Linked DNA regions of Homo sapiens. The protein of the gene in region 1 interacts with the protein of each later gene in a pairwise test. Each region holds a gene or a part of one and is shown on either strand. Other genes may lie near its edges.

What was found. Proteins that work in one complex are often made in the same cells at the same time.
Region 2: the proteins of CERCAM (region 1) and VGLL3 interact in binary tests that used the Homo sapiens proteins (3 or more experiments, as listed by UniProt).

What each region holds. Positions count from the first base shown.
Region 1 is NC_000009.12:128,427,357-128,430,856, reverse strand, and holds part of CERCAM (inactive glycosyltransferase 25 family member 3 isoform a precursor), read right to left. Parts: intron 2,556-3,500; coding exon 2,436-2,555; intron 2,101-2,435; coding exon 2,024-2,100; intron 1,928-2,023; coding exon 1,821-1,927; intron 1-1,820. UniProt on the Homo sapiens protein: Probable cell adhesion protein involved in leukocyte transmigration across the blood-brain barrier. Does not express any beta-galactosyltransferase activity in vitro.
Region 2 is NC_000003.12:86,970,650-86,974,149, forward strand, and holds part of VGLL3 (transcription cofactor vestigial-like protein 3), read right to left. Parts: intron 1-3,500. UniProt on the Homo sapiens protein: May act as a specific coactivator for the mammalian TEFs.

The DNA.
Region 1 (3,500 bases):
TTTAGTAGAGATGGGGTTTCACCATGTTGGCCAGGCTGGTCTCGAACTCCTGACCTCAGGTGATCCACCCACCTCAGCCTCCCAAAGTGCTGGGATTACAGGCATGAGCCACCACGCCCAGCCACCTCGGGAGTTCTGAGAGGATAACTATTAGGACATGTCCTAATATGATAAGACAGGGGTGACCCTTGAGGAAAGGGTGGGATGGTAGGGGGCTGCCTGAGGGGGAGGCACTCTAGGAAGAATGTGGGAACATGATAGATACTTCTTGGGCAGAGGCCCAAGCAAAGGATGGATAGCCTATGGTCAAGAGACCTCGGGGGATGTGGTGTCTCACACCTGTAATCCCAGTGCTTTGGGAGGCCAAGGTGGGAGGATTGCTTGAGGCCAGGAGTTCAAGACCAGCCTTGGCAACAGAGAAAAACCCCATCTCTCAAAAAAAAAATTTTTTTTGAGACAGAGTCTCACTGTTGTCGGCCCAGGCTGGAGTGCAATGGCACAATCTCGGCTCACTGCAACCTCTGCCTCCTGGGTTCCAGCAGTTCTCCTGACTCAGCCTCCCAAGTAGCTGAGATTACAGGCACCCACTACCACACCTGGCTAATTTTTGTACTTTTAGTAGAGAGGGGGTTTCACCATGTTGGTTGGCCAGGCTGGTCTCGAACTCCTGACCTCAGGTGATCCATCCATAACCTCCCAGAGTGCTGGGATTACAGGCATGAGCCACCGTGCCCAGTCAAAAATTTTTTTTCATTAGGTGGACATGGTGGTGCATGCCTGTAGTCCGTTATTCAGGAGGCTGAGGCAGGACGGTCACTTGAGGCCAGGAGTTCAAGACCAGCCTAGGCAACAGAGTGAGACCCTATCTCTATGAAAAAAAAACAAAACAAAACATTTTTTTTAATCCGGGTGTGGTGATGCAAGCCTGTAATCACAGCTACTTGGGAGGTGAGGGAGGAGAATCACTTAAAACCTGGGAGGCGGATGTTGCAGTGAGCCAAGATTGCGCCACTGCACTCCAGGCCTGGGCGACAGAGCGAGACTCTGCCTCAAAAAAAAAAAAAAATTCTTTTTAATTAGCTGGATGTGATAGTGCACACCTATAGTCCCAGTTACTCAGAAGGCTGAGGTGGGAGGATTACTTGAGCCCAGGAGTTTAAGGCAGCAGTGAGCCATGTTTGTGGCACCGCACTCCAGCCTGGGCAACAGACGGAGGGCAACAGACGGAGACGCTGTCTCTAAAAAAAAAATAAAAAGAGCTGAGTACTTGAAGCAAATGGCAGCCGACATATGGGGCCATAGGACCCCTGGTGGCTGGAGAAGCCTAGCCTCTGGGTTCCTCGGGGGAACATGGCTGGCCTTTCCTAATCCCCACGCATCAGTAGCTCAAGTCCAGGATGGAGAGTAATAATAAGGGAGACACCTAAGCCTTTGGAAACTATGTGCCCGGCCCTGGCTAACTTCACTAAACTCACAAAACCCTAAGAGAAGGGCACAGTTATCTGCTGTTTATACAAACGGGCTGAGAGATGGGGGTAGCTGGCTGGAGGTCACACATTCAGTAACTGGTAGAGCTGGAACCCAGGCCCTGGAGCCTCAGCCACTGTGCTCTCCTCCTCTGGTGAGCAGCAGGAGGGCATCTTCTCCCACGTGTGTCTGCTCCGGAACTCCCTGAGAGGATATTACTCAGACCCTATTTGGATACTACATGGGACAGGAAACTCATTCAACCTGTCTGCTTTTCCCAGTCCTAGCGGGCTAGGAGATGGACCACACTGCTTCCCCAAGCGCACAGGGCCCCCCCCACCAGGCAGGCTCACCAGCCATCCACAGCGTCCACCACCCTCCCAGAGATCTCCATCTCCCAGAGCGAGGCGAGCATGCGTTCCCGACGGTCAGGCCTGCGAGCCAGGCTGATGACAAAGACCTGGAGGAGGCAGGGGGGTGGGCGGTAAGTGCAAGGGAGCGGAAGAGGAGGGCCCATCCACCTCCTAACAGCGAGCCCACAGGCTGGGGGACTTACCTCGTCAAACCCTATCTTGCTGGGCCTCTTAGAGGGCCGAGTCACATGAGCTGAGGCCTGCATGCGGGGGCCGTCCACTGCAAAGGGAAGCACACCCCAAGCACGAGTCCCTACTGACTCCTGTTAGCAGTCACCCTGAAGTCCTAGCCCCCAGCCTCATTCCTGCCCCCTTTGGCAGAACACCCCACAGGACGGGACCTCAGAGATCACAGGATCCACCTGCCCCCATTGTAGGGATGCTAGACTAAGGCCCAACAGGGAAAGGGACTTTCTCAGAGTCATGGAACGAGTTAGGGACAAAGCTGGAACCCCAAGGCCAATGCCCGCTCCGTCCAGGGCCTAGGGAAAGGGGCACCGTGGGGAGGCAGGGAGCCCCGGCAGCAGGTGGGTGGAACAGTTCCCCAGCCCTCACCTAGTGCTTCTAAGATCAGGTGGATGAAGTTGACCCTCTCGTCTTCCAGCCCCTGGTGGGATTTCACCGGCACATTCATGTACCCATAACGGTGCTCATTGCACACGTGGACGGAGACCCCTGCAGAGACAGGCTGAGTGAGAGCTGCAGTGGAGGGTGGGGCTCTCAGAACCCAGCTGAAAGGTCCTAGGCCCAGCACTGCCAGTGACCCAACATGTCAGTCTTCTCTGGGACTCAGTTTCCCCACCTGTGGGACCAGAGGGAGAAAGGGCTTGGCTCACACAATATCTAAGGGGTCTTTCTACTGAAATGGTTCATTCATTCAATATACCTGTCCAGGGCACCCGCTGGGAGCCAGGGTTACGGCAGTGAGCAAGACTGAGTCCCTGCCCTCAGGGCATCAAGGTGAGGCAGGAGCAGACAAACTCCTACCCATCACAGCCACAGGGTGCCAGTGAGCCCCACTGCTCTGTCTCCTAAATCCCCCCACCTCTCCTGATCCCCACCACCCCACCTGGATCCAAGGGCCATCGCCTTTTCCCCACACCCCTCCACTTCACCTCACACCCTCTGGGGCTCCTCTCCACGATGTCTTTCACCTGGCAGCCAGAGTGGCCTTCCCCCGGCTTCAATATTTGTTACCTTTTTTTTTTTTTTGAGATGGAGTCCTGCTCTGTCACCGAGGCTGGAGTGCAATGGTGCGATCTTGGCTCATTACAACCTCTGTCTCCCAGGTTTGAGCAATTCTCCTGCCTCAGCCTCCTGAGTAGCTGGGAATACAGGTGTGCACCACCACATCCAGCTAATTTTTGTATTTTTAGTAGAGACGGAGTTTCGCCATGTTGGCCAGGATGGTCTCGAACTCCTGGCCTGAAGTGATCCACCCACCCTAGGCCATCCAAAGTGCTGGGATTACAGGCGTGAGCCACTGCACCCGGCCAATATTTGTTACCTTTATTATAATTATCCTCAGGGGCAGGCACACAGTGCCAATTAAAAAGCTAACCTAGGCGGGGCACAGTAGCTCACGCCTGTAATCCCAGCACTTTGGGAAGCCCAGGCAGG
Region 2 (3,500 bases), on another chromosome or scaffold:
TTCTATTCTGAGGTGGCAGGGTCTCAATGGGCTTTGAAGGGTTTTAATCTAGTAAGTGACACAGTCAAATCCGTTTGTGGAAAGATCAGTGCCTCCACCTGTAGCCTGTTGCCTACAGTGTTGTATAACTAAACAAGCACTGGGCTGGGAGACCAAGGAGCCCAGCTCTGATCCTAGGTCTTACCCTATCTCATTTTATCACCCAATATGGACCCATTGATCTTTCCATGGTTTACTTTCTTTCACTAAGAAAATGAAGTATTTGAACTCATTAATTCAAATTATCTACGGCTTAATACTGCTAACAGTCTGTGAAGTGCCCTATGGATTATTTTTATTTACAGAAGAAGACATTTTCTAAAGATGTTAGTCATGTGAGTTTAAGAGAGTATTTTTATACTGAGTTCCACATAAAAGAACCTTGCTAGATCTTTCCATTGAATGAAGGGTATGAATGGAGGATATCTTAAGAAGTATTTTAAAATAAGAATATTCAAAACTCTGACATTATCTATGTTCTCTCTATAAATATCAGGCCATAGTTTTCTTGCCTCAGGGAAAGCTTAAAAAACTTCAGTCAACCACCACATATATCATTTGGTTAACATAATTCGGCATTACTGTGGTGTGTGAACATTTCCTCTCCCCTAAAGGCTGTGGCAGCAGCACTGCAAGCTCTTCTATTCTCTCCCCTTCAGCTGGGCACCAGAGCTATGATCATGACCATTCATCCCATTCATCCTGTGGTCACACAGCTATTCACAGTCAATTCCCTCTCTCACAACATCTCCATCGATCTCAAAACACTTGGGGAAATCTAGGAAATGGTGTTCTTCAAAAGGCAAAGAATGGAACTGCACACTTTAAGTCTTCAAACAACCTCAGGAAACTTTTAATTGAATGACTTTGTTAAAATCACAATCTATCCAAAAATACCACCTATAATCAGCCTTACTGACATTGAGGTAACTATGTTTTCTTGAATTAACAATCGTCTCTTTGCAACATATGAAAAATACTATTAATGACAAGAAGGAAAGTCGTGTAAGTTGTAAGAAGAAAATTCAATTTGCCTTAGGTGATGGTCATTTGTAAAATATTTCTGTCATACCCACAATGAAAGCCATCAATGTTTAAAGCTTAAAACCCATACAGAGAGTTTAGAGAGGCTCCTTATTCTACATAGTTCATCCTTGCTACCACACATCTGCCACTTTGCTCTCACAACTCCCATCTTTGGGACCAAAGCCTTCATTCTGCTCCTAACTTCCATCTCCCGAGGGGCTAGAATCCTATTATGAAAACCGTTGAGCCCCAACCACAAGTACGTGCCAGAGATATAGAATTCCCCTTATTAAAATCCACCATTAAGATGTCAAAAGTACGGAGAGTATATACCATTTCTCTGTATGCTTTTAGTCTCATTTATATGTACATGGAGCCAATCTTATTTTATAGATGCTTATGCAGTTTGAATATGCATGCGCAAATGGGAATAATGAATCAATTATTTATCAAAAATATTATTGGTCTATTTATGAAGTACTGTACCATGATTAGTGAAGACATTATTACTGAAAGTAGAAATCTATTTTTGAAAATGCACTCCATAAAGATTGAACAAAGTTTTAAAATGCTCCAGGGAAAAATAAAATTAAAAGGAACTTAATATTTTCCCAGTCAATATGTCTCTTGAGATGAATATAAAGTTTGCAAAGATCTATGCAGCCCTTTAAAAAAAACCTGTTACATTTACAATTGAAACAATATTGAGTTGAAAATATGTTTATGAAGAAGTTTATACTTCAAAATCACTATTCGGTGTCTTGCTTGTTTAAGAAAAAAAAGTCTTGATGCAAAGGAAGAGATGATATGCTTTGTTTCATGCCTGAGAACCAGTGTGCTTATTTCATATGTATGTAAATTTTTTTCATTACATGATTCTTTGCTTATGAGTACTTAATCACAGCCACATTTGTTGGATGAAGAAGACATATGAAAAACTGCATGGGCTATTTCTATGCAATATTACATTTCAGGTGAGTGAAGAAAATACAATACTTTATGCTATTAACACTATATGGTGAGTTTGGATTCAATATTACCTGGTATACAGGTGATGTTAACCAATATTTGGATGATGTTGACACTGACAGTCTAACACATACAAAATGCCCAACTGTAATTTTGGTTCAATTTTCATTTGGGGTTAAAAATATTACTCACACATACATACACACGAGTTTATTTCTAGACAAAAAAGAAAATGATAATATTGATACATTGTCTAATAAAATCCACTAAAAGCAAACCCAGTAATCTCACTATCTGATTTAGACTGCAACATGGTATACCAGGTATTTCTTTCAATTTCACAATAGTGGGATACTTTTTACACTGATTGTAAATGTCTCTTAAAAAAAACACACACACACACACATTACCTCCAAAAAAATTTTTTAAAATCTCCGAGTAAAAAATTTAAGAAAGATAAGATTCAAAATTTAAAGAATGATACAGCTTATTAATTTTGAAAATAACAAAAACTAAATTAAAAGGAAAATGGGACAATGAAGTGTTATAGAAACTCTAAGTCATCTTAAAAATTTCCAGAAAACACATTAGAATCAATATTGATTAAAATATGATTATTAAATGCTAAAAGGTAACATTTTTACATTTTTTATTAATATCAGTTAAAAAACAAAATTCTACTCAATTCTTAAGCTAAAGTGTTCTTGCTGTAATTTCATTGCCATTCTCTTGTTGTTCTTCCCATAAAAATAAATGGCTGGGTCAGAAGTGAAATGACATGTGTTCCAGTGTTTTCTGTCATTCAGTAATTATGCATTACCATTATGTCCAAAGATTGCCTTCTAGTTACTTTCTTCTAGAGTTGCTCAAAATGGGCCTTGTGACTCTACAATGAGAGTTTCAAGGGATGATGTCAGAGGCCGATACTCCTTGGAGGCAGCAGGGTGAGATTAGTCACGCCTCACTTTTTTCCCCATGTCTTGGTCCTATGGACATTCTGTTCATTTCCAGTATCAGCCAGCTCATCAGACAGGCCCTCCTTTTCCTTTCTCCATTTGACTATTTAGGTTTCGTATTTATTTTGAGAGCTTTTTCCCATGAGAATGAATTGCCCAAGCAGACCCTATGTACATCAATGAGCCAACAGATGATTTTCTTTGCAACTGCAATATCAGTAAGATTAGCATTCTGTATGGTTTTAAGTCAGTGATTTACTCTGCTATGGCTTGACATAGCTCCTGCCCTTTTCTACAGATACACACAGACTCATTTCTGTAAAGATCAGTGCATAGGCATATTTGAAACCAATGTTTAGCGCTGTGCTAAATTAATCATATAGATTATTTTTAAAATCTTTATAATAACTCTAGGAGAAGGGTATCAAGAAACATATATTTGTATGGAGATAAGGGACCAATCATATTCATTAGGTTTGTTATTTTTTTTTTTTTTTAGATAGAGTCTCA